Linked DNA regions of Homo sapiens. The protein of the gene in region 1 purifies or fractionates together with the protein of each later gene. This does not show direct contact. Each region holds a gene or a part of one and is shown on either strand. Other genes may lie near its edges.

Region 1 (3,649 bases):
GGACTCCAGGGGACAGACGGACAGGAGGGGGTGGCCCAGCCTAGGAGGGGGCGTGGCCATGTGGACAGGAGGGGTGGCCCGGCTAGGAGGGGGCGTGGCCATACCGGGGTCTCCACGGGTGGCTCCTGGGGCCGGGGCTCCTCTGCCCGGGGCTGCACCTCCTGGACTGTTGCCTGCAGGCAGCTGGAGCACCTCCAGGTCCCACTGCTCGTGTGTCCACCAGTCAGAGACATGCAGAACAAGACAGCGGGTGACAGATCCCCAAACCCACGGGTGGAGCTCCAGGGCTCCGACCATGTCTTTTCACAGAGGGGGAACCGAGGCACAGCAGAGAGATGGGCAGAGACACAGGAAGGGAGAGCCCAGCAGGGGGACATTTACCCTTCGTGGGGTGGCCCTGGCCAGCGTGATCAGGGTCCCCTTGGCGTGCTCTCTGATGAACCCCAGGAATCCCCAACACCTGCGAGCCCTGGTGGCTTTGCCTGCCTCTCAGGGCTGGGCCCTGCCGGGGGCCTCCCTAAACTGACCCACCTGTTAAGGGGAATGGCACCCAGCAGAATGGGGAGGTGATCAAGGGCAGAAAGAGACGGCAAGGAGGAACGGCTTCAGGAGCCGAGCAATGACCCCCACTGTGCCCCTTATTCTAGTGATGAGGCACAAGGCTGAGAGGGGGCCTGATGACGGCCACTCAGGGGCTGGGGCAGAGCCTCGCCTGAACGTGGGTCCCCACTGCACCCAGAGCTCTTCCTCCCACAGACTGCCACGTCCTGTGGGGTTGGAATGGGGGCAGGGCTCGGTGGGCCGTGGGGAAGGAGCACCGGGATGTGAACGCAGAGGAGGCCTCCCGCCCCCACTAAGCCCGGCGTCCTGTGCATTGGTGGACAAACTCCCACCTGCCCTGGGGGGCACAGCTCTGTGGCCTCTGTGCTCCCCAGCCCTGTCTGGAGTGGGACTCTGGGGTGGGGCTTGGGGGTGGGGGCCGGCTACCCATGGGGGCGTGGGCTGCAGCCTGGGATGAGCTTGGACAGGGTGGCATCTTCGCCCTGGGCCTCTGTTCTGCTTTGCTGCCCTCAGGGGCCCAGCTGTCCAGGCTGGGCAGCAGGTGTGGCCAGACCGGGAGGCAGGTGGCAGGGTGGGAAAACCCCAGGCCCCGGCCCCACGGCCCAGTGACCTGACTCAGAACCCCTTTCCATCTTGGATGGGAGAGGCTTGGGGTGGCTTCCCTTCAGGGTCAGTGGGTGGAGGCGGCCGTGAACCGGGGTGGCCTGGTTGCGCTGGCAGAGGTGCAGGCTCACCTGGGGATCTCCCGGAGCGGAGGGGACAGGCAGGCCAGGTGGAAGGCCCGAGGGCAGCCGTCACAGCAGATGAGCTCCCCGCCGTCCCGACACACGGCACACTCGTCCTCATTCTTCTGGCACAGGCAAGAGACGCCCATGCAGACTGGGCTGGGGTGCAGCACCCTCCTGAGAGCCACCTCCTTCCCAAAACAGCTCCCCCAGCAGCATCTCTGGGTACCTGAACTCCCCAGTCTCTGCCCTGCTCCCATGCTGCCAGGGCCTGAAATTCTGCCCTGACCACCTGTTCCCCATCCATCTGGTCTCCAACAGACACCCCCCGGGGCCATCCCTATTGGGAAGAAAACCCGGTTTCTTGCAGGCTGCTGCGTTCCAGGGGCCCCGGAACTGTACACCAACCACATGAACCCTTCCTCACAGGGCAGTGGGGCCAGGCCCAGGGAGGTCTCTCCCGACCTCAGCGCCTGCTGAATCCTCCACCTGCAGCCCCCACCGTCCTTGTGCCCTGCCTGGATGGTGCCTGCTGTGCCTTCAGGGGTCTCCCAGGTACCACTTCCTCCAGAATCCCCCCAGACAGCCAGGCTAGGCTGGTCCTGCACGGCAATGACCTCACTCATTCTAACAATCCCCCAGACGCCCACCAGCCCGGGTGCTCCTGCAGGGCAGGACTGGCTCCTGTCACTGCTAAGTGCCAGGGCCCCACAGAGCCCCTGGTGCCAAGTGGTCAAGATCTGTAACCCACCACGGCAGGCACCCCCCACACTGCTTCTACCCCATTAAGAAACCATGCTGGGGACGAAAGATGAGCATGGCATTCCCAGTGGATCCTTGACCTCCTGGCTATAGCAGGGGCGCCCGGCCCACCCACGGGCCCAGCTGAGAGCAGCGGGTACAGCCTGGACCAAACGCCATGCTCTTAAGAGCCTGAGAAGACCTCACTTTCTCTGACTCATTTAAACTATTACCATTGCGTATTATCAGGAAAAAAATACTGTCTATTAAAGAAAAAGAGCTGTACCCTGTGGGTAGGGGCTCAGGCCCCGGTGCTCATCCCTGAGTGCCCAGGTAAAGGCAGAGGCAGCAGGACCCACCCGAGGGGAGCAAGGGCAGACAGGGGCCTCTCCTGTGGTCTAGGGCATTACCTGGTGGAGCTGGGGGTCACTGGGGAGGGCCAGAGGGGCGGGAACGCTGCCCTGCTGGCCCAGCCTAGCCTCACCTCCACCCTGCAAGGAAGAGGGGCGTCAGCAATGGGGGCAGCCTCAGCAGCGAGGGTGCACATGGCTGTGGCACCAGGCGTCTCTCGGCAGCAGCCCCCAGCCCCCAGCAGAGCCACTCCCCCAGAGGCAACGCTGTTCCTGGGGCGGGGGGCATCAAGAGCCAGGCTCCCCAGGGAAGGTCAGGTGCTTACGGGGGCAGCGCCCTGGGCTCCCTTGGCTCGAACCAGAGGCTTCGGGCCACTGCTGCTGCGGGCCTTGTTCTTCCCACTGCCGGAGTCTTCGAACTTGCTGGGAGTGTAGAACTCCCCGCCAACCTGGATGCACTTCTTGGAGCCGCCTGGGAGGAGATGCCGGCTGGTCCTGGCTCACCCGCCCAGCAGGACCTGCCTTGGCAGTCGTGTAGGCCCCAGGGTGGGGTCTAGCAGAGACAGGTGGAGTTCCCACAGCCTGCATTCCTCCAGCCCGCCCCCACCCCAGTCGAGTCTGGGGCCCGGGGATTGTCCTGGATCTACACCAGGGTGTTCAACAGCGTCCCCCGAAGTTCACGTCCACCCAGAACCTCAGAGTGTGACCTTACTTGAAATCAGGGTCTTTGTAGATGTGATTAGTTAAGATGAGGTCACACTGGACCATAAGTTCAATGACTGGTGTCCTTATAAAGAGGACACGTGGGAGACAGCTGTGAGACCACAGAAGCAGAGGCTGGAGCGGTGGGTCCTGAGCCCAGGAACAAGGAGCACAGGGGTACCCCCATAATGACCAGCAGCTGGGAGACACAAGGAAGGATTCTTCCCTGGAGCCTCCAGAGGGAGTGTGGCCCCGAGACACCTCGATGTTGGCATTTCTGTCATTTCAAGCCTCCCAGTTTGTGCCAATTTAACCAACAGCCTTAGGAAGTAACACAGTGGGCCTTGGGACCATCCAGAGGTGCAAGACCAGGGCCCTGGCTGTGCTTGGTGTTCCCAGCCCATGTCCAGCACCGAGGAGACACCGTGTCAGGGACTTGAGATGGAATGCCCCGATGGCACGGTGGGTCTGCCACCAGCGGCCCTGCTGTGCCCTGGTCAGATGGCACTGGTGATTGCATGGGGTCAGCGGCTGGCCAGGGAATGGCGGGCGAGGATGCTGCAGGCTGGC
Region 2 (3,263 bases), on another chromosome or scaffold:
AGGGCTGGGATTACAGGTGGGAGCCGTGCCCAGCCTCTGCCTATGGCATTTCTTCCCTGTACCCTTGATGGGAAGCTCCCACCCCTAGTACCATAGTGCCTGGAACATTCTCAAGGATCGTTTACTAATTAAATGATCTGGTGGAAGCCAATGCTCAGGGGAGAGGGGGGTGGGCTGGGCCTGGTTTCTCCCATCTCTCATCTTTCCCCAGCCCCCTCTCATCAGGGATCATGATACATCATTGTTGTCATCATAATGGCTAACATTTATCAAGCCCTTAATAAGTACTAGTTACATATCCATATGTTGGCAATGTCAGGTTAAGAAAATATGTGCGTGGCCAGGCGTGGTGGCTCACACCTGTAATCCCAGCACTTTGGGAGGCTGAGGCAGGTGGATCACTTGAGGCCAGGAGTTCGAGACCAGCCTGGCCAACATGGTGCAACCCCGTCTCTACTAAAAACACAAAAATTAGCCAAGCATGGTGGCAGGCACCTGTAGTCCCAGCTACTGGGGAGGCTGAAGCAGGAGAATCGCTTGAACCCGGGAGGTGGAGGTTGCAGTGAGCCGAGATTGCACCACTGCACTCCAGCCTGGGTGACAGAGTGAGACTCTTGACACACACACACACACACACACACACACACAGAAGAAGAAAATTGTGTGTGTTCGTGTGTGTGTGTGTGTGTATCCAGAGAGTTAAATATACCATTTTCCCATTTTAGGGACGAAGAAACTGAGGTGAGGTCACCTGCCCGAGTGATGCAGCTAGTTGGCAGCAGAGTGGGACCGGAACCCTGCTGCCAGGTCTGTGTGCGGTGGAAGTGGTGGTCACGGCCTCACCTGCACCCCTCGCTCCTCCAAGTGTCGGATCAGACTCTTCCTCATGATCAGCCTGGGGGTGGGGTGGGGACGTGGGAGGTGATGATGAGAGGGGACCTGGGAGAAGGGCAGCAGTAGGTCTCTATGGGGACACGCCACCCAGCCATCTTGCCCACCTCACCATTTCGAAACCACAGCCAATAACTGGTTCAGGCAAGAGCAGGAAAATGGGAAATAGGTCCTGCAGAGAGAAGGAAGTGGGGGTTAGCTCCTAGGGTCTCCCCTGTCCCAGAGGTGGGGTGGGCTGGTAGTGCCCCCGCCAACTAGGGTAGCGCTGCCCTCCCACCCCCCAGAATCCCCCAGAATAACCTTTGTAGTTGCCCCAGTGAACAATTCACCCATTGTTCAGAGAGCCTACTCTGACCACCACGCTTCAAGGGTGTGGCCCTCCAGTCACCATTCACCAGATAAGGAATCTGGGCCTTAGAGAACGAAAGGGACTTGCCAGACCCAAAGCAGAGTGGTGGTGGGGCTGGGCCAGGGCCTCGCTTGGTTCCAAAGCTGGACATCCAGGCTGCAGGCCCTCCTGGTTGGGCCTGGCCAGCTTCTTATTTATCTATTTATCTTATTATTAATTTAAATTAATTTTTTTTTTTTTGAGACAGAGTCTTGCTCTGTCGCCCAGGCTGGAGTGCCGTGGTGCGATCACAGCTCACTGCAAGCTCCGCCTCCTGGGTTCACACCATTCTCCTGCCTCAGCCTCTTGAGTAGCTGGGACTACAGGTGCCCGCCACCACGCCTGCTAATTTTTTGTATTTTTAGTAGAGACAGGGTTTCACCCTGTTAGCCAGGATGGTCTCGATCTCCTGACTTTGTGATCCGCCCGCCTTGGCCTCCCAAAGTGCTGGGATTACAGGCGTGAGCCACCGTGCCCGGCCATTAAAAAATTTTTGTAGAGACATGTCTCACTATGTTGCCCAGGCTGGTCTTGAACTCCTGGACTCAAGCAATCCTCCCGCTTCAGCCTCCCAAAAGTGCCAGGATAATAAGCACGAGCCAGCCAAGTGTGGTGGCTCACACCTGTAATCGCAGCACTTTGAAAGTCTGAGGTGGGAGGAGACCAGCGTGGCCAACATGGCGAAACGCCGTCTCTACTAAAAATACAAAAATTAGCCGGGCGTGGTGGCAGACCCTGTAGTCCCAGCCACTTGGGAGGCTGAGGCAGGAGAATTGCTTGAACCCAGGAGGCGGAGGTTTCAGTGAGCCAAGATCGCACTACTGCACTCCAGCCTGGGCCACAGAGTGAGACTCCTTCTCAAAAACAAAAAACAATGGCCGGGCGCGGTGGTTCACGCCTGTAATCCCAACACTTTGGGAGGCCGAGGCGGGTGGATCACCTGAGGTCCGGAGTTCAAGACCACCCTGACCAACATGGAGAAACCCTGTGTCTACTAAAAATACAAAATTAGCCAGGATGGTGGTGCATGCCTGTAATGCCAGCTACTTGGGAGGCTGAAGCAGGAGAATCGCTTGAATCTGGGAGGCGGAGGTTGCGGTGAGCCAAGATGGCACCATTGCACTCCAGCCTGGGCAAAAAGAGCAAAACTCCGTCTCAAAAACAAACAAACAAACAAAAAACCCACAAAAAACCTCGTGAGCCACTGTGCCCATTGGCCAGCTTCTTGAGACCAGACAGCACTTAGTGGGACGACCCCTAATTATCCCACTCCAGGGGTGACTTTAGAGACCCTTGACAGTGTCCTAGGGCAGGCTCTGGAGTCAGACCCAGGGAAAACCTAAGCTCTGGATTTCCAGCTGTGTGTCCTTGGGCAAATTACAGAACCTCTCTGGGCCTCAGATTCTCTAGGGTACCATGGGAGTCATGATTCTTATACCTCCTGGGGGTGCTGCAAGGTAAAAGTCAACCCAAAATATGTTAAAACACTTTATAAATCTTGTATAAGGCCGGGCGCAGTGGGTCACGCCTGTAATCCCAGCACTTTGGGAGGCCGAGGCAGGCGGATCATGAGGTCAGATTACCATCCTGGCTAATACGGTGAAACCCCATCTCTACTAAAAACACAAAAAAATTAGCCGGGTGTGGTGGCGGGCGCCTGTAGTCCCAGCTACTCGGGAGGCTGAAGCAGGAGAATGGCGTGAACCAGGGAGGCAGAGCTTGCAGTGAGCCGAGATCACGCCACTGCACTGCAGCCTGGGCAACAGGGGAAGACTCCTCAAAAAACACAAAAAAAATCCGGTATAAAAAGGTGGTACACAAATATCATTGATCTCTTTGTAGCAAGGTATTGTGGGGGCTGAGTGGGACTTCCTTCTGGACAACAGAGGGGAGCAGAGAGCTCTGGGACTACCACAGAGAAGCTGTCAGAAAGCAAAGGGAGACCGGGCCCAGGGGCTCAGGTATGTAATCCCAGCACTTTGGG

What was found.
Region 2: the proteins of AIRE (region 1) and GDPD3 purify together in Homo sapiens (affinity purification with mass spectrometry; 2 studies listed by BioGRID and IntAct, with this or other methods). This does not show direct contact.

What each region holds. Positions count from the first base shown.
Region 1 is NC_000021.9:44,288,857-44,292,505, reverse strand, and holds part of AIRE (autoimmune regulator), read right to left. Parts: intron 2,850-3,649; coding exon 2,704-2,849; intron 2,519-2,703; coding exon 2,438-2,518; intron 1,412-2,437; coding exon 1,296-1,411; intron 205-1,295; coding exon 105-204; intron 1-104. UniProt on the Homo sapiens protein: Transcription factor playing an essential role to promote self-tolerance in the thymus by regulating the expression of a wide array of self-antigens that have the commonality of being tissue-restricted in their expression pattern in the periphery, called tissue restricted antigens (TRA).
Region 2 is NC_000016.10:30,107,370-30,110,632, forward strand, and holds part of GDPD3 (lysophospholipase D GDPD3), read right to left. Parts: intron 1,064-3,263; coding exon 1,004-1,063; intron 896-1,003; coding exon 844-895; intron 1-843. UniProt on the Homo sapiens protein: Hydrolyzes lysoglycerophospholipids to produce lysophosphatidic acid (LPA) and the corresponding amines. Shows a preference for 1-O-alkyl-sn-glycero-3-phosphocholine (lyso-PAF), lysophosphatidylcholine (lyso-PC) and N-acylethanolamine lysophospholipids.